Homo sapiens: one gene and its partners. The protein of the gene in region 1 interacts with the protein of each later gene in a biochemical or structural test. Each region holds a gene or a part of one and is shown in the gene's direction. Other genes may lie near its edges. The genes, in order: IKBKB, MAP3K1, KEAP1 and TNFAIP3.

What was found.
Region 2: of the proteins of IKBKB (region 1) and MAP3K1, one has a biochemical effect on the other in vitro, tested with the Homo sapiens proteins (3 studies listed by BioGRID and IntAct).
Region 3: the proteins of IKBKB (region 1) and KEAP1 form a complex in vitro, tested with the Homo sapiens proteins (one study listed by BioGRID).
Region 4: of the proteins of IKBKB (region 1) and TNFAIP3, one has a biochemical effect on the other in vitro, tested with the Homo sapiens proteins (2 studies listed by BioGRID and IntAct).

Annotation. Positions count from the first base shown.
Region 1 is NC_000008.11:42,266,586-42,274,316, forward strand, and holds the start of IKBKB (inhibitor of nuclear factor kappa-B kinase subunit beta), read left to right. Parts: upstream 1-4,716; 5' UTR 4,717-4,884; intron 4,885-4,972; exon of another isoform or gene 4,973-5,138; coding exon of another isoform or gene 5,139-5,148; intron 5,149-5,497; coding exon of another isoform or gene 5,498-5,515; coding exon 5,516-5,620; intron 5,621-7,731.
Region 2 is NC_000005.10:56,881,458-56,888,636, forward strand, and holds part of MAP3K1 (mitogen-activated protein kinase kinase kinase 1), read left to right. Parts: intron 1-112; coding exon 113-1,409; intron 1,410-2,069; coding exon 2,070-2,222; intron 2,223-3,206; coding exon 3,207-3,369; intron 3,370-4,474; coding exon 4,475-4,606; intron 4,607-5,920; coding exon 5,921-6,063; intron 6,064-6,768; coding exon 6,769-6,900; intron 6,901-7,179. UniProt on the Homo sapiens protein: Component of a protein kinase signal transduction cascade. Activates the ERK and JNK kinase pathways by phosphorylation of MAP2K1 and MAP2K4. May phosphorylate the MAPK8/JNK1 kinase.
Region 3 is NC_000019.10:10,486,280-10,493,458, reverse strand, and holds part of KEAP1 (kelch-like ECH-associated protein 1), read left to right. Parts: intron 1-1,196; coding exon 1,197-1,882; intron 1,883-3,605; coding exon 3,606-3,811; intron 3,812-4,090; coding exon 4,091-4,267; intron 4,268-6,640; coding exon 6,641-6,807; 3' UTR 6,808-7,179. UniProt on the Homo sapiens protein: Substrate-specific adapter of a BCR (BTB-CUL3-RBX1) E3 ubiquitin ligase complex that regulates the response to oxidative stress by targeting NFE2L2/NRF2 for ubiquitination.
Region 4 is NC_000006.12:137,862,617-137,870,279, forward strand, and holds the start of TNFAIP3 (tumor necrosis factor alpha-induced protein 3), read left to right. Parts: upstream 1-4,642; 5' UTR 4,643-4,926; exon of another isoform or gene 4,927-5,625; intron 5,626-7,663. UniProt on the Homo sapiens protein: Ubiquitin-editing enzyme that contains both ubiquitin ligase and deubiquitinase activities.

The DNA of each region.
Region 1 (7,731 bases):
TGGGTAAAATGAGGCTGAGACCTACTGGGCTGCATTCCCAGATGGTTAAGGCATTCTAAGTCACAGAACGAGACAGGAGGTCTGCACAAGATATAGGTCATAAAGACCCTGCAGATAAAACAGGTTTCGGTAAAGAAGCCGGCTCTAACCCACCAAAACCAAGATGGCCACGAGAGTGACATCTGGTCGTCCTCACTGTTATACTCCCACCAGCACCATGACAGTTTACAAATGCCATGGCAACATCAGGAAGTTACCCTATTTGGTCTAAAAAAGGGAGGCATGAATAACCCACCCCTTGTTTAGCATAAATAAATAAACATAAAAATGGGCAACCAGTAGCCCTCGGGGGCTGCTCTGTCTAAGGAGTAGCCGTTCTGTTATTCCTTTACCTTCTTTTTTTGTTTGTTTTTTTTTTGTTTTTTTTTTTTTTGAGGTGGAGTCTCGCTCTGTCGCCCAGGTTGGAGTACACTGGCGCGATCTTGGCTCACTGCAAGATCCATCCACCTCCTGGGTTCACACCATTCTCCTGCCTCAGCCTCCTGAGTAGCTGGGACTACAGGCGCCCGCCACCATGCCTGGCTAATTTTTTGTATTTTTAGTAGAGACGGGGTTTCACCGTGTTAGCCAGGATGGTCTCCATCTCCTGACCTCGTGATCCACCTGCCTCCCAAAGTGCTGGGATTACAGGAGTGAGCCACCATGCCTGGCCCCTACTTTCTTAATAAACTTGCTTTCACTTTACTGACTCGCCCTGAATTCTTTCTTGCGCGAGATCCAAGAACCCTCTCTTGGGGTCTGGATCGGGACCCCTTTCCTATAACGGTACTGTACTGTGGTACTAATTACTGCAGAACAAATCCGTGTGTGATTTTATATTGCCTGGCCTTTGTCTGTCCTTACTTCATGGCTCCCTGTGGGTCTTAAAAACCCAGTAAGATTCTAAGTGCCTCTGATGAGATCTCATTCCATTGCTTGGATCCCCTGGGTCAGTAATGCCCTGGGCTGAGCTAGGCACTCTGGCTGGTCAGTATTTCTTGATTTCCCTATAGCACAGCTAAAAAGCACACTCAGCCTCAAAGCAGGAAGAAAAGGGGACATTTTTCTGCTGAATCTGAAAATATCTTTTGTAAACAGTCTGCTCATATCTCCAGAGCAGGACAGAAACCAGATGCAGGCAGAGATAGCTAAACATGTCTTATCTGGATAGAAAATTGAGCTTAAGATAATAAATATCTTGGAATATGATAAAACCCAGAGGCCCCTTCCTGGTCCATGATTAATTGAAGAAAAAAAAAGCCTAGTAATACGTGACCTTATCAGAGAGATTTATGTTCAGTTGAAAGCCAAGTTATTTTGAGCTGAGCAAAATGAGGATTCAAATTACAGGAGCGCAGAGTAAACTTTTGGCATATTAGCGGACATCTTGGTAAGTTTCTCAGGACAGTGTTTTTCAGAGATGACAGGATTAAAGAGAAACCTTTTATGACATTGTACTGGAAATGGACTCTCCACAGTGCCCAGCACATATAGGTGCTCAATAATTTTTTTTTTTTTTTTTTTTTTTAGATGGAGTTTTGCTCTTGTCGCCCAGGCTGGAGTGCAATGGCACGATCTCGGCTCACTGCAACCTCTGCCTCCTGGGTTCAAGCGATTCTCCTGCCTCAGCCTCCCGAGTAGCTTGGATTACAGGCACGTGCCACCACGCCCAGCTAATTTTTTTGTATTTTTAGTAGAGATGGCGTTTCACCATATTGGCCAGGATGGTCTTGATCTCCTGACCTCGTGATCTGCCCGCCTTGGCCTCCCAAAGTGCTGGCATTACAGGTGTAAGCCACTGTGCCTGGCCTAATTTTTGTATTTTTAGTAGAGACGGGGTTTCACTATGTTGGCCAGGCTAGTCTTGAACTCCTGACCTCAAGTGATCTGCCTGCCTCGGCCTTCCAAAGTGCTGAGATTACAGGGGTGAGCCACCACACCCGGCCAAATTTTTTTTTTTGAGATGGAGTCTCGCTCTGTCGCCCACGTTGTAGTGCACTGGTGCGATCTCCACTCACTGCAACCTCCAGCTCCTGGGTTCAAGTGATTCTCCTGCCTCAGCCTCCCAAGTAGCTGGGATTATAGGCACCTGCCACCACGCCCAGCTAATTTTTGTATTTTTCGTAGAGACGTGGTTTCACCATGTTGGCCAGGCTGGTCTCAAATTCCTGACCTCAAGTGATCTGCCTACCTTGGCCTCCCAAAGTGCTGGGATTACAGGCATGAGCCACCTCACCTGGCCAATAAATATTTTATTTAAAAAATTTACTTATTAAGCAAACACTTATATTGCACTTAGACAATGCAGTCACTATTCTACGTGTGTTACAACTATTTACTCATGTTCCTGTTGCTTCTGGCCTTGAGGCTGAGCTTGCCATTTAGCTGGGAGTAATCAAGAAATACCAGGCCAGAAGCGGTGGCTCACACCTGTAATCCCAGCACTTAGGGAGGCCAAGGCGGGAGGATTGCTTTGAGGCCAGGAGTTCAAGCCAAGTCTGAGCAACATAGTGAGACCCCCATGTCAACAAAATAAAATTTAAAAATTAGCTGGTCATGGTGGCACGTGCCTGTAATCTCAGCTAGTGGGGAGGCTGAGGCGGGAGGACCCCTTGAACCCAGGAGGTCAAGACTGCAGTGAGCCGTGATCCTGCCACTATACTCCAAAGTGGGCGATAGAGAAAGGCCCTGTCAAGAAAGAAAAAAGAAAGAAAAGGAAAGAAAAGGAAAGGAAAGGAAGAAAGGAAAGGAAAGGAAGAAAGAAAGGAAAGAAAAAAAAGAAAGCTAGCAGCTGGGAAGGGAAGGGGAGGGGAAGCGAGGGGAGGGGAGGGGAGGGGAGGGGAGGGGAGGAAAAGGAAAGGAAAGAAGGAAAGAAGGAAGGAAGGAGGAGAGATAGGAAGGAAGGAAAAGAAGGAAAAGAAAGAAACCAAGTAGCCGGGAAGGGAAGGGAAGGGGAGGGGAGTGGAGGGGAGGGGAGGAGAGGGGAGGGGGAAGGAAGGAAGGAAAAGAGAGAGAGAGAGAAAGAAAAAGAGAAAGGAGAGGGAAGAGGGGAGAGGGGAGAAACCGAGCAGCCAGCGTGCCTAGCACAGCCCTGGACACCATTGACCCCTATGTTTGGGTTGAGATCTGTCCCTGAGTTAACTTCAACCCCAGGGCTGTCAGGCACTGCTGCTATCAATACCTCATTTGTCCCTCACAACAACTCTGGGGTGGCCTCCTTTCTATGACTTTCTATGAGCCCGCCTGTCCCCCTGCTATTACAATGAAGCAGATGAAACTGCTGATCTTTGTTACTGATGTTTTGGCTGTTTTCAATTTCCAAAAAATGACAATTAAATGCAATTCAACCTAATATTGCCTAAATTTTAAAAGAGGAAATAGGTTCTCACAGTGTTTAAGTAACCAGCCCCCGTGCCTCAGAGGTAGTCAACAGCAGTATCTGGATTCAAAATCCAGTTTGCCTCCTTCTGAACTTCTTAACATGCTACTTTTAGCCACGGATTAAGAACCCGGGAACCAGTTGCTAGGGTTTGAGTATCAGCTCATCTACGTAGCAGCCATGTACCTTGGAAATAATAATAATGCAGACCAGGTGCAGTGGCTCACAGCCTGTAATCTCAACACTTTGGGAAGCCCAGGCGGGTGGATCCCTTGAGCCCAGGAGTTGGAGACCAGCCTGGGCAACACAGTGAGTGAGACCCCGCCACCAGGTATGGCGGCCGCGCACCTGTAGTCAGGAGAATCACTTGAGCCCAGGAGTTGGAGGTTGCACTGAGCTGTGATCACACCACTGCACTCCAGCCTGGGTGACAGAGCGAGATAATAATAATAATGATGATGATGATGCAGTATTTTCCAATTTACAGGGTTGCCCTGAGGATTGAATAAGGAAATCTAAGTACAGAGATTTAGAACAGAGCCCTGCACTGTGTAAGCACTCTATAGATGTGAGCTATTATTATCATCTTCAGGTTCCTTTGGTAGTTTTTTTCTGCTTGAATAAAATATAGCAACACACACACACACCTCCTTTGTCCACTAATGTAATCCCATAAAACGGAGAAACTCAGCAGTGAGGACATTCTGATTCCAAGCAGGAAGGAGATGAACGATGAACCTCAGGCTGAGCGCCTCACGGTTTCCTCATGTCACCGGGGCTGGGGGTGCAGTTTGGCTTCACACTGCTAGGTCTTTTCTTGTTTTTAAGGGGGCAGGGGCTGTCACCTCTGAGGAGTCAGCTGTGATTGATCCTTCTCCACACCCAGCCAAGCACCCCCCAGACAGGGGAGCGCCCGCAGTAGGGCGGTAGGCAAGGGCAGTTCTAGCCAACAGTCCCTAAATCATCCCAGCGGGGGCGCGGGAAATTCCACCGAGGTGAAAGCCTAGGGGGCCGGGTGAAGAAATCCCCATACCCGGGCCCAGAAACCGCTCCAGGTGGAAGTAACTTGTCTAAAGAGAACAGGGTGTAACGGGGGTCATTTCAGGGCTGTTCTTTTAAATCGGTGAGCACGGTCTGTCTACTTTCCCTCAGTTGTCTAGAGACCACACGCCACCCCCGCCCCGGGGGAGTCGCCCGGTCGAGGGTCCCGGGACAGGCGCAGCACTCGCAGCATCCGGACCTGGTCTGCCTCGCGCCGGGAGCGGCCTCTTTAAGAGCGGCCGCGGCCAACGTGCTCCGTGACGTCAGAGCAGGAAGTGTTTGAGGAAGTCGCGCCGCGCTGCCCGCGTTAAGATTCCCGCATTTTAATGTTTTCAGGGGGGTGTCATAGCCCCGGGTTTGGCCGCCCCAGCCCCGCCTTCCCCGCCCCGGGGAGCCCGCCCCCTGCCCCGCGTCCCTGCCGACAGGTGAGTCCCCCTCGTGGGTGCGGCCCGGGTGCCACCTGCAGGCCCCGCCGCCCCGCTGCCTGCAAGGCCCGGAAGACCCCTCTGTGCCGCTGGGAAGTCGCAGCTTGCGGACTGGGGAGCGTTTCACTTGTGCGGGTTGGAGTTCGGGAAGCCGGGAGAAACAGCTCTCCCTGGGGTGGCTTCTTGGGGGTGGGTGGCTTTGAGGGGAACCTGCGATTTATGGGAACATTGTAAAGAAACACGTGACCTCGGCGATGCTCAGAAGTAGGTTCTGCCCCTGCCACCTCGGGCAGAAGGCGGGCAGGCCCGGGCGCCCCTGGTGGAGTCAGCTGGGGATCCCCTCGCTAGGGCAAGGGCGTGGGCATCGCCTCCCTCGGTGACTTTCTTCCTTGCCTGATGCCACAGCAACCGGATGGGGGAGGGTGAGAGGGACAAAAGTTTGCCACAAAGTTTGGACCAACCAAACACATTGGTTTCTTTACAAAATAAAAAACCAGTTGTATTTTTCTTCTCTCCCATTCAAGAGCAGTGGTATCTCTTGCCTTCTCCATCCCTTTGAGCTCCATTTTTTTCTTAATCCTAACCTTTTTTCCCCATCCCAAATTGCTTATAGAGTTAGCACGACATCAGTATGAGCTGGTCACCTTCCCTGACAACGCAGACATGTGGGGCCTGGGAAATGAAAGAGCGCCTTGGGACAGGGGGATTTGGAAATGTCATCCGATGGCACAATCAGGTAGGCCCTCTGTGCAGCTTGGGGAGGGGCGGGGAGCCAGGCCCCCTCCTCACTGCCTCCACTTTCTCTGATCCTGCTGGGCCAAGGGCTCACCTTTGGCTTTGGTCATCTTGGGACAGTGAATAGGGGGACTGGGAAGAGGGCTTCAGGACTTCTGAGCTGACTCCAGGTTAGTGGTCTCCATGCTTTATTGACTATGTCACCTAAATAAATAGTAAAATAAAGTTAAGCTCTTAGTCTCTATTATATATATATGGTAACAGTAGAATATCATGTACTAATATATACTGATATTATATGTTATAAAACATATAGAAATAGGAAAATTTAAAGGATGAGACTAAATAAATAATTTAAAATATTTTAATTCCTTGAGGCCAGTAGTTCAAGAGCAGCCTGGGCAACATAGCAAGACCTCGTCTCTACAAAAAAGGTTTAAAAATTAGGCAGCCAGCTGGGCGTGGTGGCTTATACCTGTAATCTCAGCACTTTGGGAGGCTGAGGCAGGCGGATCACGCAGTCAGGAGATGGAGACCATCCTGGCTAACACTGTGAAACCCCATCTCTACTAAAAATACAAAGAATTAGCCAGGCTTGGTGGCACGTGCCTGTAGTCCCCAGCTACTTGGGAGGCTGAGGCAGGAGAATCGCTTGAACCCATGAGGCGGAGGTTGCAGTGAGCCAAGATTGCGCTACTGCACTCCAGCCTGGGTAACAGAGTGAGACTCCGTCTCAAAAAAAAAAAAAAAAAAAAAACCTTAGGCAGCCTTGGTGCGTACCTGTAGTCCCACTACATTGGAGGCTGATGTGGGAGGATTGCTTGTCCAGGAGTTTGAGGCTGTAGTGAGCTATGATTGTGCCACTGCACTCTAGCCTAGGTGACAGAGTGAGACCTTGTTTCAAAACCATTTTTTAAAAATTATTTTAAATGTCGGGTGCAGTGGCTTACACCTGTAATCCCAGCACTTTGGGAGGCCGAGGCAGGAGGATCACTTGAGGTCAGGAGTTTGAGACCAGCCTGGCCAACATGGTGAAACCTCATCTCTACTAAAAATACAAAATTAGCTGGTGTGGTGGTGCATGCCTGTAACTTCAGCTACTCAGGAGGCTGAGGCAGGAGAATCGCTTGAACCCAGGAGGCAGAGGTTGCAGTGAGCCGAGATAGTGTCACTGCATTCCAGCCTGGGTGACAGAATGAGACCCTGTCTCAAAAAATATATATATATATATATATTTAAAATATTTGCTAATTATGATGTCTTCCCAGTATTGCTTGCGATACTGCACGGCAAAAAATAAGCAGATCCACATGAAAGTGAGAATTCATTTAGAATGATGATGAAAATCCATATTTCAAATAATTAACATTTTTTTAAATTTTGTAGAGATGGGGTCTTGCTATGTTGCCCAGGCTTGTCTCAAACTCTCATCCTCAAGCAGTCTTCCCGTCTTTGCCTCCCAAAATGTTTGGATTACAGGCCTGAGCCATGGGACCTGGCCTCAGCTGAGGTTTTTTTTTTATTTTTTGTAGTGATGGTGGTCTCACAATGTTGTCCAGGCTCGTCTAGAACTCTTGGCCTCAAGTGATCTTCCTGCCTTGGCCTCTCAAAGTGCTGGGATTACAGCCATGAGTCATTGAACCTGGCCTGTTTTTATTTTTAATTGACACATAATAATTGTACATATTTATGGGGTACAGTGTGATATTTTGATACATAATGTGTAATGATCAAATCGGGGTAATTGGCGTGTTCATCACTTGAAACACGTATCCTTTTTGTTGGAAACAGTCAAAATTCTTTCTTCTGGCTATTTTGAAATATACAATATTTTTTTTTTTCCGGAGACAGAGTCTCGCACTGTTGCCCAGGCTGGAGTGCAGTGGTGTGATCTTGGCTCACTGCAACCTCCGCCTCTTGAGTTCAAGTGATTCTCCTGCCTCAGCCTCCTGAGTACCTGGAATTACAGGTGTGCACCACCATGCCAGCTAATTTTTGTATTTTTAGTAGAAATGGGGTTTCACCATGTAGGCCATGCCGGTCTCAAACTCCTGACCTCAGGTGATCTGCCCACCTCAGCCACCCAAAGTGCTTGGATTACAAGCGTGAGCC
Region 2 (7,179 bases), on another chromosome or scaffold:
TGCTGAAATGGTTTTTGAAGTATACATGCTGTAAATTACTACCATTTTTTAAGTTTCCATGTATTTTTCAGTAATTGGAACTTATATGGTAATGAATGTTTTTTTCTTTCAGGTATAAGAAGCTGCTGTCCCTCTTAACCTTTGCTTTGCAGTCCATTGATAATTCCCACTCAATGGTTGGCAAACTTTCCAGAAGGATCTACTTGAGTTCTGCAAGAATGGTTACTACAGTACCCCATGTGTTTTCAAAACTGTTAGAAATGCTGAGTGTTTCCAGTTCCACTCACTTCACCAGGATGCGTCGCCGTTTGATGGCTATTGCAGATGAGGTGGAAATTGCCGAAGCCATCCAGTTGGGCGTAGAAGACACTTTGGATGGTCAACAGGACAGCTTCTTGCAGGCATCTGTTCCCAACAACTATCTGGAAACCACAGAGAACAGTTCCCCTGAGTGCACAGTCCATTTAGAGAAAACTGGAAAAGGATTATGTGCTACAAAATTGAGTGCCAGTTCAGAGGACATTTCTGAGAGACTGGCCAGCATTTCAGTAGGACCTTCTAGTTCAACAACAACAACAACAACAACAACAGAGCAACCAAAGCCAATGGTTCAAACAAAAGGCAGACCCCACAGTCAGTGTTTGAACTCCTCTCCTTTATCTCATCATTCCCAATTAATGTTTCCAGCCTTGTCAACCCCTTCTTCTTCTACCCCATCTGTACCAGCTGGCACTGCAACAGATGTCTCTAAGCATAGACTTCAGGGATTCATTCCCTGCAGAATACCTTCTGCATCTCCTCAAACACAGCGCAAGTTTTCTCTACAATTCCACAGAAACTGTCCTGAAAACAAAGACTCAGATAAACTTTCCCCAGTCTTTACTCAGTCAAGACCCTTGCCCTCCAGTAACATACACAGGCCAAAGCCATCTAGACCTACCCCAGGTAATACAAGTAAACAGGGAGATCCCTCAAAAAATAGCATGACACTTGATCTGAACAGTAGTTCCAAATGTGATGACAGCTTTGGCTGTAGCAGCAATAGTAGTAATGCTGTTATACCCAGTGACGAGACAGTGTTCACCCCAGTAGAGGAGAAATGCAGATTAGATGTCAATACAGAGCTCAACTCCAGTATTGAGGACCTTCTTGAAGCATCTATGCCTTCAAGTGATACAACAGTAACTTTTAAGTCAGAAGTTGCTGTCCTGTCTCCTGAAAAGGCTGAAAATGATGATACCTACAAAGATGATGTGAATCATAATCAAAAGTGCAAAGAGAAGATGGAAGCTGAAGAAGAAGAAGCTTTAGCAATTGCCATGGCAATGTCAGCGTCTCAGGATGCCCTCCCCATAGTTCCTCAGCTGCAGGTTGAAAATGGAGAAGATATCATCATTATTCAACAGGATGTAAGTATAGATTCTTTAAGAGGTTAGAAAACTTCCTTGGGGCTGGGCACAGTGACTCATACCTGGAATTCCAGCACTTGGGGAGGCTGAGGCCGAAGGATTGCTTGAGCACAGGAGTTCGAAACTAGCCTGGTCAACAAAGCAAGACCCTGTCTCTACAAAAAATTTTAAAAATTAGCCAGGCATGATAGTGTACACCTGGGGTCCCAGCTACTCAGGAAGCTGAGGTGGGGAGGGTCACTTGAACCTGGGAGTTTGAGGCTACAGTGAGCTGTGATTACACCATTGTACTCTAGCCTGAATGACAGAGCAAGACACTGTCTCACAGAGAGCTTCCTTGGACCATACTAAAATAAACCTAATTCAGAAATGCTGCTTCTAACATTCAGAAGCAGAGTTTTCCACATAAAATTATTACTTATACAACAATAATGTTTGTACTGTTTAAACAGCAATAATTCTTGCCTATGGGCATTTCCGGTTAATTGTATAATGGTGATTACTTTTGCATTTGCTGTCGGTCACAAATACCTTCCATTCAGAGGTCACATTTATAGGTGGTTTGGGAAGCCAGACTGAATAAGAATAATATCTTGCAGACTAATTTCACAAAATCTTACTCCTTTAACAGTAAAAAGATTGCTTTCGTTTAATATGTAGACACCAGAGACTCTACCAGGACATACCAAAGCAAAACAACCGTATAGAGAAGACACTGAATGGCTGAAAGGTCAACAGATAGGCCTTGGAGCATTTTCTTCTTGTTATCAGGCTCAAGATGTGGGAACTGGAACTTTAATGGCTGTTAAACAGGTAAATATCTAGTGAGCATATAAATGAAATGACTCAAATCACAAAATGAAGCATGTTCAGTAAAAAGAATAAAGGATATGTCCACGTGTGTGTACTTTAGTTCTTTAAACTTTGAGAAACTTAGTTTCAAAGTAGATGTTTCTAAAGCACCAGAAACATCATGAATTCTGTTATTGTTAAAAGTTGAGGCCACGCGTGGTGGCTCACACCTGTAATCCCAGCACTTTGGGAGGCCAAGGTGGTTGGATCATTTGAGGCCAGGAGTTCAAGACCAGCCTGGCCAGCATGGTGAAACCCTACCTCTACTAAAAATACAAAAATCGGCCGGGCAGGGTGGTAGGCACCTGTAGTCCCAGCTACTCAGGAGGCTGAGACAGAAGAATTGCTTGAACTCAGGAGGTAGAGGTTGCAGTGAGCCGAGATCGCACCACTGTACTCCAGCCTGAGCAACAGAGCAAGACTGTCTCAAAAAAAAATAAATAAAAGTTGAAGTATGATTATTGTAAGACTACAATATCAAGATGGGCCTTACAAAGGTTTTTTTGGTTTTGCTTTTTGTAGGTAGTAGAGGTGGTTTTCAGGTACTTCTTTCAACAGTGTACTTGTGCGGTGCCATCTTGGGGTTTCAGTGGTTTACTTTTTATTATAACGAGCATACTTAATCAGGATAGGAAAATTATTAAACTTTCATTTTTAAATCATGTTGATTCTTCTCCCATATTTGGGCTTTTCTCATCTTTACTCTGAGACTATTGGAATATTGACTATATCCCAATATTTTTGTCATTTTTCTGATGTTTACTGCTGCTTAAGCTAGATTCTTAGTGTTTAAAAGAGTTTGACTTGGGTTTGTTTAAAGTACATTGCATCCATAAGCATAAATGCCATCTGTTGCTAATAAAGTGCTAGTTTGCATTTGTTCATTTTAGATCAGATTGCTAGTGAAAATATGCAAAACTTTGTGAACGTGTTTATTTGAAACAGGTGACTTATGTCAGAAACACATCTTCTGAGCAAGAAGAAGTAGTAGAAGCACTAAGAGAAGAGATAAGAATGATGAGCCATCTGAATCATCCAAACATCATTAGGATGTTGGGAGCCACGTGTGAGAAGAGCAATTACAATCTCTTCATTGAATGGATGGCAGGTATGTTAATGTTTTAAATTACAAAATAGTAGTACGTGGATTTAACTTTCTGCAATTTAGGAAAAACCAGTTTAATTAAAATTTATTTCTATCAAATAGTTTGGGTTTCTAAAAACAAATCACCCCAATATATTAGTATGAACCACAAATACTTCGTTTTGTATTTCATTTACTATAAATGAAATATTGACTACCTCTACCTTTTAAATTTTTCCAGTGTGTTTTTAAATGATTGTGTAGCATTGTTGTTTTTAATACTTGATATGTATAAGATATGTATATTTCCAGGTAGCCATGATAAATTGGACAGATGAGGAAGTGTTTTAACATAACAATATACAAACAAAATTAACATATAACTTGAAAACTTACTACAAGTAAACTAGCACTGAAGCATAAAGTTGAACCTTGTCATCTGCTGAAATAAATGAAGACTGAGTTTTATTTTGTATTATACAATGTATACAATAAAATTAATGACCTGATGTGATGAACAGATTGTTTGGTTTAACTTCTTAGATTTGTGTGTGTATTTAAGAGTGCATTTCTCTTTACCAGTCAGTTCTTAAGTATGTTATCTGTTGGTTGGTCTTAATAAAGATTTACACTACAGTAGATAGGTTGACTACTATAAACACTTTTAAAAGCGGCTAAATTTGAGACATGTTCCAGGTCAGAGCTAGTAAATGGTAGAATATGACGCCTAACTCTGGGTTTTCTGTTCCTCCTCCCATTCTTTCCACCTTTTACTACATAATATGTTAACATTGTTTACTTTAGTCATTAATAAAGTTGTTTTGTGTATTTTGAGAAGACAGAGAATTGAATTGTACATTTCAGAAATAGTTTAATCCGAAATTGTTAACTTTTACAGCTTTCTGAAATCTTGACTCTCCAATAAACTGGTTTCCCTGTGGGTTCTGTGAAAATGTCTCCTAATTAGTAGGTTTTTGAGATGATACAGGAATATGTTAGTTTTGAAATGTTTTTCTTCTGTTTCAGATGTGAATGTGAGTTCATGCAGTGAAAACTTTAGAAACCAAAGTGTAATAAATACTTTTAATTCTGTCTTAAGTTTATGATAATTATTTCTATTGTCTTATAGGGGGATCGGTGGCTCATTTGCTGAGTAAATATGGAGCCTTCAAAGAATCAGTAGTTATTAACTACACTGAACAGTTACTCCGTGGCCTTTCGTATCTCCATGAAAACCAAATCATTCACAGAGATGTCAAAGGTGAGAATTCTTCTAATTATTATCTAGTGACAATAAAAAAATTAATTTTAAAATTTGGGGCCAGGCACAGTGGCTCACACCTGTAATCCCAGTACTTTGGGAGGTGAAGGCAGGTGGATCACTTGAGGTCAGGAGCTCGAGACCAGCCAGGCCAACATGGTGAAACCCTGTCTCTACTAAAAATACAAAAATTAACAGGGTAAGGTGGCGCATGCCTGTAATCCTGGCTATTTGGGAGGCTGAGACAGGAGAATTGCTTGAACCCGGAAGGCAGAGGTTGAAGTGAGCTGAGATCACACCACTGCACTCTAGCCTGGGTGACAGAGTGAGACTCTGTCTCAAAGAAGAACAAAAAAATGGACCTTTGTTGATAGTTTCTAACAGTGGGATTTTTTTCTCTGAGTAATTCAGAATATTAGAACTGAAATGAGCCTTAGGGATCATTTAATCTGCCTTCCTCGTTTAATAGAAAAGTACATTGAATACAAGAGAGGCTGTGCCTTTTCTACAGTTTTATTGCTAGTTAATGGCAGAAAGTATACAACACAGGTCTCCAGATTCCCTGTCTTGGCCTCATGATACGCTGACTCCCAGAAAGTTCCTTTTCCTGGTTTTATTTTGAATAATTGGGATATTGGGATATCATCAACTTCTTTTAAGAAAAATTCCTTCAAATCCTTTGTAGGTCCCATTATTTTCCTTATCCTTTTCTTTTTTTTGGAGACAGGTTCTCTGTCACTCAGGCTGGAGTGTAGTGTTGCAAACTTGGCACACTGTAACTCATTTCCTGGGCTCAAGTGATCCTCCCACCTCAGCCTCCCAAGTAGCTAGGACAACAGGTGTGCACCACCATGCCTGGCTAATTTTTTATATTTTTTGTAGAGATGGGGTTTTGCCATGTTGCCCCCAGGCTGGTCTTGAACTCCTGGGCTCAAGCGACCCGCTTGCCTCAGCCTCCCACAGTGCTGAGATTACAGGCGTCAGCCACCGTACCTGGCCTCAGTTTATTTTTCTCAAGAGCAAATTTGGTTTTCTGTCATTAGTCTTTTTAGCTAGTATTTGACATAATGTGTTGAAGTAATTTTATAACTTTTTAAATTAAGCTCTAATTATGAATTTAGCGTACGCTAGAGAGAGCTGTGTGCCTTTAGCAAGAATGAAGTGAAAGGAAAAGAGAATAACTGTTTGCACCTCTGACATGTAGTTCACTTCTTTCTTTTGTCATTGTCCTAGTTCATTAGTATTGTACTGGGCTTTTATCTGTCCTTATTTTTGTTTTTAACATACAAGGTCATTTGCTGTGTTTGTTGACAGGTGCCAATTTGCTAATTGACAGCACTGGTCAGAGACTAAGAATTGCAGATTTTGGAGCTGCAGCCAGGTTGGCATCAAAAGGAACTGGTGCAGGAGAGTTTCAGGGACAATTACTGGGGACAATTGCATTTATGGCACCTGAGGTGAGAAGCATCTTTGAGTGTGATGACAGAAAATATTTTGGAATTCTGTGTAACAGCATTATACTAAATTATCTTGCAGTGGTATCCAGTATGTACTTACCAACTAGAAGTCCGTGGCCCTTAAAATACGGTTTTAATAATATCTTTCAGACCCTTATTCTCGACCTTTCTTTGCCTTGGCAATATTCAAAAAACAGGTTTTAATAGATTTACTTAACGGCTGTTACTAATAAAGAATTCTGGGGTAATTTATAGCAGTTGTTTTGTAATAAACTCAAAGTGCACATAAGAAATTTTTAAAAATATTCTCTCTCTATTCTAAAAGGAGATGAGCATACAGAGGCAGCTCCTGTCTGTAGTGGAAGGAGTTTAAGCATTGTTCTTCTGACTCAGCTTCTTCTGTCGTGTTCATAATTCTTCATGTTCATATGTAGTAATGATCTGTTGTCCTCTTGCCACATAGTTTGCTAAGAGCAAAATTCTGTGATGGGACTCTGCTTCAGAATCTCACAATTCTCCAAAATATTTTTGTGCTACCTGGAAAATTAAGCTCATTAATGAAATAAATTAGATATTAGGTAGTCCACAGAATTCCTGTTTGTACCAGTTTTCTCCCTAAAGTAAGGAAGTAGAATCTATAACTACAAAATGGCCTTCTCTTTTTCAAATGAGTCCTATTTCCAAATTAACTCTGATTTATTTTAGGTACTAAGAGGTCAACAGTATGGAAGGAGCTGTGATGTATGGAGTGTTGGCTGTGCTATTATAGAAATGGCTTGTGCAAAACCACCATGGAATGCAGAAAAACACTCCAATCATCTTGCTTTGATATTTAAGGTAATTGTGAGATAAAAATTACTTCTTTGTGCTAAAAGGAGTACAGCAGAATTTGGCAGGAGGCAAATTTTGATGGGTTCTCCCTAACAATCTAGCATGAAGGTAAATAAATAGTCTGTATATTTATTCAGAGAGGATTTGATATACAAGTTTTTTACTTTAAGATGGTGCAAAAGCAATACAAATTTGGTAAAAACCATACTTTGAATTTTGATTTTTGTCTGAGCTAGCAATATGTGCTATGATACACTGGTGATGCTAGGCAGTGGCAGCGAGTCA
Region 3 (7,179 bases), on another chromosome or scaffold:
CGGGCGCGGTGGCTCACGCCTGTAATCCCAGCACTTTGGGAGGCTAAGGCGGGTGGATCACAAGGTCAGGAGATCGAGACCATCCTGGCTAACACGGTGAAACCCCATCTCTACTAAAAAAATACAAAAAAACTTAGCTGGGCGTGGTCGCGGGCGCCTGTAGTCCCAGCTAATCGGGAGGCTGAGGCAGGAGAATGGCGTGAACCCAGGAGGCGGAGGTTGCAGCAAGCGGAGATCGCTCCACTGCACTCCAGCCTGGGCGACAGAGCAAGACTGTCTCCAAAAAAAAAAAAAAAATTAGCTGCTCTGGAGGCACACTCCTGTAATCCTAGCTACTTGGGAGGCTGAGGCAGGAGAATCACTTGAACCTGGGTGGCGGAGGTTGCAGTGAAGCAAGATCACACCACTGCACTCCAGCTTGGGCAACAGAGTAAGAATCCATATCAAAATAAAATAAAATAAAATAAAAATTAACGGGGCATGGTGGTAGGTGCCTGTAATGTCAGCTACTTGAGAGGCTGAGGCAGGAGAATTGCTTGAACCTGGGAGGCAGAGGTTGCAGTGAGCCTAGATCATGCCACTGCACTCCAGCCTGGGTGACAGAGTGAGACTCTGTCTCAAAAACCAAAGCCAAATGATACCCCAGGGTACACGATCTACTGAGTCTTTGCCCATTTTCCTGAGTCCTGATGACATACTTGGCACATAGTATTAACTCTTTTTTTTTTTTCTTTGAGACAGAGTCTTGCTCTGTCGCCCAGGCTGGAGTGCAGTGGCGCAATATCGGCTCACTGCAACCTCCGCCTCCCGCCTCCCGGGTTCAAGCGATTCTTCTGCTTCAGCCTCCCGAGTAGCTGGGACTAGAGGCGTGTGCCACCACACCCGGGTAATTTTTGTATTTTTAGTAGAGATGGGGTTTCACCATATTGGCCAGGCTTGTCTCTCAACTCCTGACCTCGTGATCCGCCAGCCTCGGCCTCCCAAAGTGCTGGCATTACAGGCGTGAGCCACCGCGCCCGGCAGGATTAACTCATTTAGTCATCACAATGTACGCGGTTCCTATTATTTGAATCCCCATTTAGCAGATAAGGAAGCTGAGACTGTCAGCGGCAGTGATAAGTTACTTGTCCCGGTCCTGCTTGGTGAGGTGTGGGGGTGACTGGAGAGTCAGCCCGTCCCACTGTCGCCCTCTGCAGGTGGCCAAGCAAGAGGAGTTCTTCAACCTGTCCCACTGCCAACTGGTGACCCTCATCAGCCGGGACGACCTGAACGTGCGCTGCGAGTCCGAGGTCTTCCACGCCTGCATCAACTGGGTCAAGTACGACTGCGAACAGCGACGGTTCTACGTCCAGGCGCTGCTGCGGGCCGTGCGCTGCCACTCGTTGACGCCGAACTTCCTGCAGATGCAGCTGCAGAAGTGCGAGATCCTGCAGTCCGACTCCCGCTGCAAGGACTACCTGGTCAAGATCTTCGAGGAGCTCACCCTGCACAAGCCCACGCAGGTGATGCCCTGCCGGGCGCCCAAGGTGGGCCGCCTGATCTACACCGCGGGCGGCTACTTCCGACAGTCGCTCAGCTACCTGGAGGCTTACAACCCCAGTGACGGCACCTGGCTCCGGTTGGCGGACCTGCAGGTGCCGCGGAGCGGCCTGGCCGGCTGCGTGGTGGGCGGGCTGTTGTACGCCGTGGGCGGCAGGAACAACTCGCCCGACGGCAACACCGACTCCAGCGCCCTGGACTGTTACAACCCCATGACCAATCAGTGGTCGCCCTGCGCCCCCATGAGCGTGCCCCGTAACCGCATCGGGGTGGGGGTCATCGATGGCCACATCTATGCCGTCGGCGGCTCCCACGGCTGCATCCACCACAACAGTGTGGAGAGGTGAGTGGCAGGGCCTGGGGGTGGGCTCGGAGGGTCCTGCTCCTGGCAAGTCCCAAGACACTGAGATCCGGGTATTCTTCCTGAGGCTGTTTCCTCTTCCTGTCTTCAGGGAGTGGAGGCCTCAGGATGAAGCTAAGCTCCTTGGAGAGTTCTAGTCAGTGACCTTTGATTCTGTGCCTGGGGCTGGGAAATGCTTAGGGGACTGTCACAAACCCATATGGTTCCTTTGTGCGGAGTTGGAAAATGTTCCATCAGTTTGAAATTGTTGGGCTAGGCACTGTGGCCCATACCTATAATCAGGGACTTTGGGAGGCTGAGGTGGGAGGATTGCTTGAGTCCAGGAGACTAGCCTGGGCAATAGAGTAAGACCCTGTCTCTCTTGCTCTGTTGCCCAGGCTGGAGTGCATCTTGGGTCACTGCAACCTCGCCTCCCAGGTTCAAGTGATTCTCCTGCCTCAGACCCTGGGGTAGCTGGGACTACAAGTACCCACCACCACGCCTGGTTAATTTTTGTATTTTTTGTAGAGATGGGGTTTCACCATGTTGGCCAGGCTGGTCTTGAACTCCTGTCCTCAAGGGATTCTCCCACCTCAACCTCCCAAAGTGCTGCGATTACAGGTGTGAGCCACTGTGCCGGACCTAAAGGACTCTTTGAGCATCAAAGAGTGATGCTGAATGTGTGATTTCTCCTTTCTGAGATGTTATCTTGTTATCTGTGAAGTGGGGGATCTGGCTGAGCCACTAGGGGTTTATCAGATGTGTTTTTGAACTTGAGCAATTGATGGCTAGGAGGCTCAGTTTTGTCATTTGGAAAATGGAGTTGCTGATACCTCAATCCTTGGAGAACAACTGCAAGCACTAGAGTTCGAGTGGAGGTGGGCACGGTGGTGTGCACCTGTAGTCCCAGCTACTCAGGAGGCTGAGCCAGGAGGGTTCCTTGAGCCCAAGAGTTGATAGCTGCAGGCTGGGTGTGGTGGCTCATGCCTATAATCCCAGCCCTTTGGAAAGCTGAGGCAGGCAGATCACTTGAGGTCAGGTGTTTGAGACCAGCCTGGCCAACATGGCGAAACCCAATTTCTACTAAAAATACAAAAATTAGCCGGGCGTGGTGGTGGGTGCCTGTTATCCCAGCTACTTGTGAGGCTGAGGCTGAATAACTGCTTGAACCCAGGAGGTGGAGGTTGCAGTGAGCCATGCTCTCACCATTGCACTCCATCTCAAAAAAAAAAAAAAAAAAAAAGTTTGAAGCTTCAGTGATTGCACCACTGCACTCCAGCCTGGACAACGGAGCAAGACCCTGTCTCTTTTTTTCTTTTTTTTTTTTTGAGATGGAGTCTCGCTCTGTTGCCCAGGTTGGAGTGCAGTGGCATGATCTCAGCTCGCTGCAACCTCCGCCTCCCAGGTTCAAGTGATTATCTCGCCTCAGCCTCCCGAGTAGCTGGGATTACAGGCATCTGCCATCACACCCAGCTAATTTTTGTACTTTTAGTAGAGACAGGTTTTTACCATGTTGGCCAGGCTGGTCTCAAACTCCTGAGCTCAGGTGATCCGCCCTCCTCGGCCTCCCAAAGTGCTGGGATTACAGGCATGAGCCATCGCGCCGGATGAACCTGTCTCTTTAAGGGGGAAAAAAAAAAGGAAAAAAAAGAGTATCTGGCCCTTAAGTATTCCACGAAGGTCAGCTATAATGGCCATTGTCCCCATTTTTCTTACGCCCTTGCAGGTATGAGCCAGAGCGGGATGAGTGGCACTTGGTGGCCCCAATGCTGACACGAAGGATCGGGGTGGGCGTGGCTGTCCTCAATCGTCTCCTTTATGCCGTGGGGGGCTTTGACGGGACAAACCGCCTTAATTCAGCTGAGTGTTACTACCCAGAGAGGAACGAGTGGCGAATGATCACAGCAATGAACACCATCCGAAGCGGGGCAGGTGGGTGGGGACGGTAGGGAGGGGAGCACCCAGGAACACCCCCTACCATCCTGGGGTGAAACTGAGCCAGGCCTGGGAGAGACCCCCTGTTGCAACCCTCATGCTGGGGTAACCACAGAAGCCCTGGATTCTGATAGAGTCCAAGCTTCTCTCTCTCCCCGCTTCATTTCTGAGGGTGAGAAGGGAGAGGAGAGAGGAAAGGTCTCCCTCAAGGAGGTGATGGCTGGGGTTCCCAAAGCCAGACCCCCAGAGTCACCTTCTCTGCATGGTGCCCTTTAGGCGTCTGCGTCCTGCACAACTGTATCTATGCTGCTGGGGGCTATGATGGTCAGGACCAGCTGAACAGCGTGGAGCGCTACGATGTGGAAACAGAGACGTGGACTTTCGTAGCCCCCATGAAGCACCGGCGAAGTGCCCTGGGGATCACTGTCCACCAGGGGAGAATCTACGTCCTTGGTGAGGCCCTGGGGGCGGGGAAGAGTCCTGACTAGCCCATCTTTTGTGGACTGCTTTTGCTTTTGCTTTCCTTTTTTTTTTTTTTTTTTTTTTTTTTAGAAACAAGGTCTCGCTCTGTTGCCCAGCTGGAGTGCAGTGGTGTGATCACAGCTCGCTGGAGCCTCAACAGCCTGGGCTCCAGCCATCCTCCTGCCTCAGCCTCCCAAGTAGCAGGGACCACAGGCGCGCACCACCACACCCGGCTAATGTTTTTTTTCTTTTGAGATGGTGTCTCACAGTGTTGCCCAGGCTGGAGTGCAATGGCATGATCTCAGCTCACTGCAACCTCCACCTCCTGGGTTCAAGCGATTCTCCTGTCTCAGCCTCCTGAGTAGCTGCGACTACAGGCACATGCCACCACACCAGGCTAATTTTTTGTATTTTAGTAGAGACAGGGTTTCACCATGTTGGCCAGGATGGTCTCGAACTCCTGACCTCGTGATCCACCTGCCTCGGCCTCCCAAAGTGCTAGGATTAGAGGCATGAGCCACCGCGCCCGGCCTGTTTTGTTTTTTGTTTTGTTTTGTTTTGTTTTGTTTTTTGAGACAGAGTCTCAGTCTGTTGCCAGGCTGGAGTGCAATGGCACGATCTCAGCTCACTGCAACCTCCGCCTCCTGGTTTCAAGTGATTCTCCCCCATCAGCCTCCCAAGTAGCTGAGATTACAGGCGCCTGCCACTATGCCCAGCTAATTTTTGTATTTTAGTAGAGATGGGGTTTCACCATGTTGGTCAGGCTGGTCTTGAACGCCTGACCTCAGGTGATCTGCCCACCTCAGCCTCCCAAAGTGCTGGGATTACAGGTGTGAGCCACCGCGCCCAGCTTAATGTTTTTGTTTATTTTTATTTTATTTTATTTTATTTTTTTGAGACAGAGTTTTGCTCATGTTGCCCAGGCTGGAGTGCAATGGCGCAATCTTGGCTCACTGCAACCTCTGCTTCCCAGGTTCAAGTGATTCTCCTGTCTCAGCCTCCTGAGTAGCTGGGAATACAGGCACGTGCCACCACGCCTAGCTAATTTTTTTTTGAGATGGAGTTTCACTTTCGTTGCCCATGCTGGAGTGCAATGGCTCGATCTCGGCTCACTGCAACCTCCACCTGGCAGGTTCAAGCGATTTTCCTCCCTCAGCCTCCCGAGTAGCTGAGGTTACAGGCATGCGCCACCACGCCCGGCTAATTTTGTATTTTTAGTAGAGAAGGGTTTTCTCCATGTTGGTCAGGCTGGTCTCGAACTCCTGACCTCAGGTGATCTGCCCGCCTCGGCCTCCCAGAGGGATGGGATTACAGGTGTGAGCCACCATGCCCGGCCAATTTTGATTTTTAGTAGAGACGGGGTTTCACAATGTTAGCCAGGCTGGTCTTGAACTCCTGACCTCAGGTGATCCACCTGCCTCAGCCTCCGAAAGTCCTGGGATTACAGGCATGAGCCACTGTGCCCGGCCTTTATTTTATTTTATTTTTATTTTTTTATTTTTTGTTTATTTATTTATTTATTTATTTTGAGGTGGAGTCTTGCTCTGTCACCAGGCTGGAGTGCAGTGGCACAATCTCAGCTCACTGCAACCTCCGCCTCCCGGGTTCAAGCGATTCTCCTACCTCAGTCTCCCAGGTAGCTGAGATTACAGGCGTGCATCACCAATCGCATCTAATTTTGTATTTTTAGTAGATACAGGGTTTCACTCTGTTGGCGAGGCTGGCCTCGAACTCCTGATCTCAGGTGATCTGCCCGCCTCGGCCTCCCAAAGTGCTGGGATTGCAGGCATGAGCCACCGCGAGTGGCCTATTTTCCTATTTTTATTTATTTATTTTGAGATAGGGTCTCACTCTGTTGCCTAGGCTAGAGTACAGTGGTGCAGCCTCTGCTCACTGCAACCTCTGCCTCCCAGACTCAACTGATCCTCCCCACCTCAGCCTCCCTAATAGCTAGGACTACAGGCGCGCACCACCAAGCCTGGCTAAATTTTTATGTTTTTTTGTAGAGATGGGGCTTCACCATGTTGCCCAGGCTGGTCTCAAACTCCTGGACTCAAGTGATCCACCCACCTCAGTCTCCCAAAGTGCTGGGATTATAGGCGTGAGCTACCAAGCCTGGCCATTTTTTTTTTTTTTTTTTTTTTTTAGTAAGAGACTAAGGTTTTGCTATGTTGCCCAGGCTGGCTTCGAACTCCTGGCCTCAAGCAATCCTCCTGCCTCAGCCCTGCAAAGTGCTAGGATTATAGGCGTGAGCCACCACGCCCGGCCTGCTTTTGCATCTCACAGCTGCATCTCTCTCTTTCTGTCCCCTGCTCTTGGATGTGGTGTGACAGGTGGTGACCATCCCTTCTGTTCTTCCCGCAGGAGGCTATGATGGTCACACGTTCCTGGACAGTGTGGAGTGTTACGACCCAGATACAGACACCTGGAGCGAGGTGACCCGAATGACATCGGGCCGGAGTGGGGTGGGCGTGGCTGTCACCATGGAGCCCTGCCGGAAGCAGATTGACCAGCAGAACTGTACCTGTTGAGGCACTTTTGTTTCTTGGGCAAAAATACAGTCCAATGGGGAGTATCATTGTTTTTGTACAAAAACCGGGACTAAAAGAAAAGACAGCACTGCAAATAACCCATCTTCCGGGAAGGGAGGCCAGGATGCCTCAGTGTTAAAATGACATCTCAAAAGAAGTCCAAAGCGGGAATCATGTGCCCCTCAGCGGAGCCCCGGGAGTGTCCAAGACAGCCTGGCTGGGAAAGGGGGTGTGGAAAGAGCAGGCTTCCAGGAGAGAGGCCCCCAAACCCTCTGGCCGGGTAATAGGCCTGGGTCCCACTCACCCATGCCGGCAGCTGTCACCATGTGATTTATTCTTGGATACCTGGGAGGGGGCCAATGGGGGCCTCAG
Region 4 (7,663 bases), on another chromosome or scaffold:
TTGTTATTAAATCCATAGTGTGTCTTACAAACATGGACTCTCAGAATCATAGAAATACCACAGCTCTTTCTCCAGCCTGCTAAAGTGCTTGGAATTTCCACCATTAAGCTCTAGGAAGTTCTGTAAGAACATTTTATCAAGAAATATAACACAGTAACACATCACAATCTGTTTGAAAAATGAGCATGATTTATCTTACCAGCCAGTCCCGGGAAACAGGTCTCTGAAAGAATGGAAGCCTTTCAAATTCTTTTTTTATGGAGATGGCTGGCAGCCAAAGGAGCAGGATTATAGAGACCCCAAACTAGACTGAAGGGATTGAGGGACAAATGAGAAAGGGGAATGTCAAGGCAAATTTTCACAATGGCTTGCACTATTCCAAGTAACAGGAACTAATTTATCTCAGAAACACCGGGCTTACTGCTAAAACCAACACTGCTTTCTAGCTCGTTCCTAATAACACCCATTTCTGGGCTTTCTAACATCCTATTTGGTCATTAATAGCAGCCTTCACAGAAACATAAATGAAACTAAGAATTGAATATTTATATTTATGATGTAAAATAAAATTACTTTCCCAAGTGTTTCAGCCAAGTGTTGACAGGAAATAAAACAGAATTCACAGGGATAGTGGATTTTCTGACAAGTTTGAGATGTCAGCATCGCACGCTTTCAGGCAAAGTGCAACAGAAGGAACTGTACTTGTCATTACACCAACTGCCTCCTTCCCAGTGGAGGGTCTTTGATCCTGGTACTATGACTCACTGGGTCACTAAGGACTTCAGTTGTCCCTCCACCATGGTGGGTCTTGGGTTTCTCCATTCAGTCCAGATAACACATGTAAAGGATCTGAGGTCCCTAGATAAGAAGCAACATTCAGTAGAATTTGGCATTCATAGGATGATGAAATTTATGACATCATTATCCCAGTTCTCACGGTTATAATCCACAGAAAGCTTCTCTTTATTCTCAGAACTAGCCCTTGTAGTGGCCTTGAATGTGCAAACGTTACCCTTTAGTAATGTTTGAGGCAGAATTTGAAAATCTGAAACATGATTCAAAGCTACCCTACAATAACTAAGCTGCCATAGTTACCTAAGGCTGCTTCCCAATATGTTTTCTATGAATCTGCCTTTCCAATAGAGCACAGTGCAGGGAAAAGGGGAGGGGGCAATTGTACAAAAGACACAAAAGGTCCAGTTTTAGTTTGGCCCATGACTGCCATGCCCTGGAATTCTGTACAGTCTCAGAAAGAGAGTGTCACTGATTATTAAAAATACATAATTTCTTCTTTTTTATTTTTTTAATTTTTAGAAACATGGGTCTTACTATGTTGCCCAGGATAGACTCAAACTCCCGGACTCAAAGGACCCTTCCCTCTCAGCCTCCCGAGTAGCTGGGACTGCAGACGCATGCTAATTAACAATCAACAACCAGGGGCCAGGCGCGGTGGCTCACGCCTGTAATCCCAGCACTTTGGGAGGCCAAGGCGGGTGGATCACGAGGTCAGGAGAATCGAGACCATCCTGGCTAACACGGCGAAACCCCGTCTCTACTAAAAATACAAAAAATTAGCCGGGCGTAGTGGCGGGCGCCTGTAGTCCCAGCTACTCGGGAGGCTGAGGCAGGAGAATGGCGTGAACCCGGGAGGCGGAGCTTGCAGTGAGCTGAGATCGCGCCACTGCACTCCAGCCTGGGCGACAGAGCAAGACGACGTCTCAAAAAAAAAAAAAAGAATCAACAACCAATCAACTGTTGCTGATTCTTGATTAAGAAAGGCTCATGAAATATGTTTGAGCTCAGCAGGGTCTCCTCTCACTTGTCACACGTGGTGCTCTCTTTCATCAGGTTCTTCCTGCTCCCCCCATCTGGGCAAGCACATCTTTTTTACTGCATGGTACAGGGATACAGGCTGCAAGCACAGTCTCACGGGAACCGTTTAATTCCAAGAGGTCATGTGTGCTCATTTTACATAGTTCATGACCCATAAACCCCAGCATTGGTGTCAAAATGGCACGTAACTTAGGAACTCTCCAAAAATATTTCACATAATCAGAATTCCTTTTTCATCTAATAAGGAGACATATTTTTTCTCCTAAGTGTCTACTAAATGTTAATAAATATTCTCTTCTTTAAAGAGTTCTGTCCATCTTGACAAGGCCTATAGCTCAAATTAAATCTCCTTCAAGGCTTTTCAGCATTCTATATCTCTTTGGTTTCAACTTATTCAACAAATCTCCCCAAATTGTATTTCTCCTTTTTTTCATAAGAAGGCATTCCATCTATACTCTCTCCTTCTCTTCTTTTCTTTCCTTCTGATTCACCAAGAAAATTGTCATTGGTCTTGTCCATGTGTTACATAATAGAAGGGGAAAAGGCAAGGGTACAGCCCAACACAGCGCTGATTTAGAAGGTGGAAAGGACAGTAAAGACCGCCTGGTGGTGGGAGTGGCAATTCACAAGCCCAGCAGTAGAATCATGGAAAGTGGAGTTCGAACATAATCCAGGGCTATAGACCACTCCTGCATCTGACTGCTATTACCTTGTCACAAATCCTGGCAGGCAAGATGACAAAGCAGTTACATCAGGACAGTTGGCAGTGGCAGGTATGAACGTGGCCCCTCAGGCTTGTCACTCCTCTTTACTGCACTCCCAGTTCATGACACCAGACAGCAAGACATGAGCCAGATAGGGGCAGTGGAAGCTGCAGGAGGATTGAAGTCATGGAGCCAGAGATGAGAGGAAACAGGCCAACTCTGTTTACAAAGGAGCACCAGCAGGAGAGTGGTGTGAGGATTAACATTCCATGCAGGGTCTTTCAGATACATGATCTTCTTCTGCCAGCTCAACTGAAACCCAGGAGGTTTCCTGAAGGTGAAACCAAGACCCTTCTACCTCTGAAGCCGCATTCTGTCTAAGGTCCGTGTTTGGCTGTTTTGAGAGGCTGGGAGACAGGACACCAAAAGAGTACCTGTCTCACAGGATCTTTCCTGAGAGGAATGGTCTAGTAAGACTGGTCATTATGGGCTTTGGAGTAACACAGGCTTAATGCCACTGGCGACTCTGCCCCTTTTGGTTGTGGAAACTGGGCAAATGCCTCAAGCTTCTTAACCTTCATATAAAAAGCATATATAAGCATATAGCAAGTACTTGATAAATGTCATTTTAGACCCTGTCATTTCTGCTAGCCCTGGACTCCAGCAAGGTCCATTTACAATGGATAGCTGACTATCCATTGTTTGAATGTTGATAGCACATTTGTGAACAAGAAGAGAGGACAAATAACAAGAGGTTTGGAACTGGAAGAAATTCCAGCCATCGGTTTTAAAAGACGAGGACCAGTCTTCAGAGAGGCCACTAGTGACACTCTGCTCCAAACTTCTTTTTGCCAAAAAAGTGCCACCCTCCATCCAGCCCCCACCCCCATCTCTGCAAGTCCTTACTGGCGAGAGGAGGATACTTTTCTAATTAAAAACCTGTGATATATGGCCTGACAAGTATTCTTAAATGTAATTAAGGGGACCATAGTACAGAATATTTCCATCCGGTTCTAGTTTAGCCAATCTAGTAAATGATCCAAAGGGTCCCGTGCTTAGAGGGCAGTAAGACAGTAAAAACGCCCTAAGACTCCTCCCTGCACAGCACCTGCACCCCCACTGCCCAGGGGGCTGCATCCATCTCCACATGACTCACCCTCCCTGTGCAACGCATGGGGGTAGGGAGGGAAGCGCCAGTATTATCAGCCATCAGCACCCTGGGGTGAACTGATTATCAGGACAACTAAAAACACACCTAATAAAGCCTTGGAGACACATGGCAAGCACCGTGATGGACTAGAAGCGATTTCTAAGCTGAAATGCTGCTTTGAATGCAATGTCAGCTGGATGCTTGGTGAGCAGAAATAGACAAGGGGAAATGGAGCAAGCGCGGCATAGGGGTGAGTGTTGTTCTGATTCCTAAGTTTACCTAAGACTGGGGCCACGGGGTCGGGTGTCCCCTGGGACCTACGTCTCATGCAGCCTGGGGTCCAGAGCTGGCAGGAACAATGGAGATGGGGACCAAAGGCTGTCACCGCTGCTTTTTCTCGAAATGCCCGCCCGGGTCCTGTCTGGGGCTCCCGCCTACGCGCTCATCACGTGCACAGCCCAAACTTTTCAGAGCCGGCCCGAGGCCTGCGGGCCCGGGCGCCAGGGTGGTTTTTAGGGTTTTCTTTCTTTCTTATTTCCCTTCTTCTTCTCCACAGTTGATGATTTTCTGCAGAAAAACAACTGCGAAAAAGAACCTATTTCATTTCCAGTTCCCATCACCGCGATTTCCACATGGATGTGACGTGACCCCAGCTTCCGAAATGCCCAGGTGACTCACGCGGGGACACCCCGGGGCGGGGCGAGGGAGTTTCTCCGGGCGCCTGCAGGGACCGGGCGGGGCGGGGCAGCGGGGCGGGGCAGGGAAAGGGGGCGGGGCGGGGCCCGCAGGCCCGGTCGGGCGGAGGCCGCGCGCGCCCCTCGCCCCCTGCGCCCTCTGGCGGCCGGCTGGACGCACTTCGCAGCCCGACCCAGAGAGTCACGTGACTTTGGAAAGTCCCGTGGAAATCCCCGGGCCTACAACCCGCATACAACTGAAACGGGGCAAAGCAGACTGCGCAGTCTGCAGTCTTCGTGGCGGGCCAAGCGAGCTTGGAGCCCGCGGGGGCGGAGCGGTGAGAGCGGCCGCCAAGAGAGATCACACCCCCAGCCGACCCTGCCAGCGAGCGAGCCCGACCCCAGGCGTCCATGGAGCGTCGCCTCCGCCCGGTCCCTGCCCCGACCCCCGCCTGCGGCGCGCTCCTGCCTTGACCAGGACTTGGGACTTTGCGAAAGGATCGCGGGGCCCGGAGAGGTAACCGCCGCGCCTCCCGGAGAGGTAACCGCCGCGCCTCCCGGAGAGGTAACCGCCGCGCCTCCCCGTGCCGTCTGCCTCGGGCTCACCGCAGTCAAGGGCTGCGGGTGCATGTTGGGCAGCGACCCCCGGGCTGGCACCGTCTACCTGGCGTTGGTTTTGCAGCGCTCCTGGACTGGGAGTTTGTTGGACGTTTCTGTCTGGGTTTTGAAGTGCTGGGAGTTGAGGTCACTGCTGCAGAGGTTGGAGTGACAGCCCTGGATACCTCCAGCCAGCTGTTCCTTTCAGATAATGCACGGAACTTAAGCTGCAGCTGACTGGTGAAGAGGCGCCCCTCGGGCCCTCCGATCGGGTGGTCGTTGGCGCTTTGCTCCTTTCGTGTCTTTTTTGGAGCCAAGCGTTGCATGCTCATGGCCACGTAGACCTTGCAGAAGCGCTGCGGCTTTTTCCCAAATTGTGCAGGACCAGCCCGACGGGGCGTAGGGTACCGCAGTGGCCGCCAGCCCGGCGGAGGTGGGGGGCTTCAGTCCCAGAGACAGCTTCCCAGACGCTCACGGGTCCTTGCAGGGGGCTGGGGTCCTGGCGCGGGGTTCAGCTTTTCCAGTAGCAGCAGTGTAAGAGAAGTATGCATGTAGACGTGGGTCGCTGGCCCCTGCTCCAGCCCCTACCCCACGGTTAGACTGTCTTTGTCAGCTGGAGTCGTCCCACATCCTGCCACCTGGCCTCTCAGAAAAGCAGTGGCATTAAGTAAGGAAGGAGCTTAACTCTTTTTGAGCCCGCTTTGTTTTCGGTTCTCCTCGCCTCAGATCTTCTTGCCTTGGAAAGCCAGTCTGGTCAAGTGTCTCAGGGTAGCATTTTGGCAGAACCATTGTTAATTAAAGGGACTTCTGGACCGCAACCTTAATGTACCAGATTATTGAGCAGCCAATGAATGCTTCATTCTCATTGTTTAAGGTGCTGCTTTGATTTTTTTTTCAATTCTTTGTACTATTTTTGATTTTTTGGAGAGGCACATCCCCAAATTTGGATGAGGTATTTGTTGATAAATAATTCATCAATTTCCACAATGCAGACAAAAATGTCTGCCCAGAGTGGAAAAATAAAACAAGGGGGAGAAGAGTTTGAGTAACGGAGAAGTTCTGTGGAATCCTAGTGACAAAAGTTGAGAAACTACCTTTAAATAAGACAGTGAGGTAACAAATGTTAAAAAAAAAAAAGTTAAGGGTAATATTGCATTGTTTGCCACTTATAACGTATCTGAAACATTTGTTCTTTAATCTTAAGCGTAGAGTGGTCCAAGACCTGGAAATCTGGGCAGTGGGTTTTGATTTCTAAGGAGGCAGTTTTACAGGCTGTGCAAGGCTAACCCTACCAATGAGATCACACTGGCGTATCCGATATTGACATTTGCATGTCTTGCCTATGGTTTACAGCTCTCACTATTTTAGATCTTTGGTGAAAAATCTTTAGATTCAGAAGAGAAAAATAAAAGAGTCAGGCAAGCAAAAAGAGATAACACCTCATTTGTTTAAAATCTTCCTACTGCCCATCTCTTTCCATCTGATTGTGGCAGGCACTGTAGCCACAGGTTTGGTGTTGTGGGATTGCAAGGGGCAGGTATTGAAAGACCTGGCTCCTAGGCAAAACTTTGCCCCTGAATGGCTGTGGGATCTGAGCAGTACCTGTAACTCCATTGCCTTAGCTGCAGACTAAGGTGGTAGTGTAATTTCAGGGAAGGGAATAAGGTCATCTTTGACTTTTAGTCCCATCATCAAGCATGGTGATTGGCCTTCAGTAGGTGGTCAGGTAGTGCTTGTTGGGTGGATGGGTGGATGGATGGATAGATGGATGGATGGATGGATGGATGGATGGATGGATGGATGGACGGACGGACGGACGGACGGATAGATGATATTGTGAAAGAGACTTTTGCTGTGCCACAAAGGAAAGGTATATGTGTTATTTTTATCCTGCTATGATTTTGCCCAATTCCACCTGTAGAGGACGTCTGACATCAAAAGAGAGCACCATCTGATCCAGAGAATGACTCCCACTATGCCTTTCCCAGCAATCAGATTAAGAATCCCAATCTAAAACTATCACCAGAAAACTCCTCAGGAGAAACCATGGGTCATCTAGTCCAACCTCTCTCCTTTGAGTGGGCCACAAGAATTATCTCAACACCTTATCAATGGTGTTGAGAGTCTAGACCCACACAGAAGTAGCTACCCTAAAATCTAGGTTTCTTCTCCTCCCTCTTCCATAGGTTTAACATTTTTATTAACTGGAAAGTTGCCCTGGCAAATAAGATGTTGCAGGAATGGAATTAACAATCACTGTGAAATTTCCTAGGGAATGTCTTTGTGCTCTGAAAACTTCTTCATCTTCTTGGAAATTAGGAAGTGTGGCCAGACACCCTACTAAGGGCTAGTAAATCACAGCTGGCTTTTTACAGTGTTCCACACTGGAGAGATCCTACATCATGTTAATTTGCATCATCCTGCGCTGTTGGCATGGGTTGTAGATGCTGGTCTTTGCCACCTTTCCTCCTTCATTTGCCAGAGTGGCCTCCTGGTGGAAACTTCTTTCCTTGTCTACTTCTAGATTTTCATTCCTTCTACTAGTTGATTATGCTTAAAGATTTCAGGGTGAAAAGCCAGGCAGACTTGCCTCTGTGTTGGTACCTGGAGGGTGATGATAAAATTTCATTGGCAGTTGAGTTAAAATGATTGAGCTCCAATATCTGTTCTTAGAAGTATAGAATTTATTGTTCTATTATTATTTT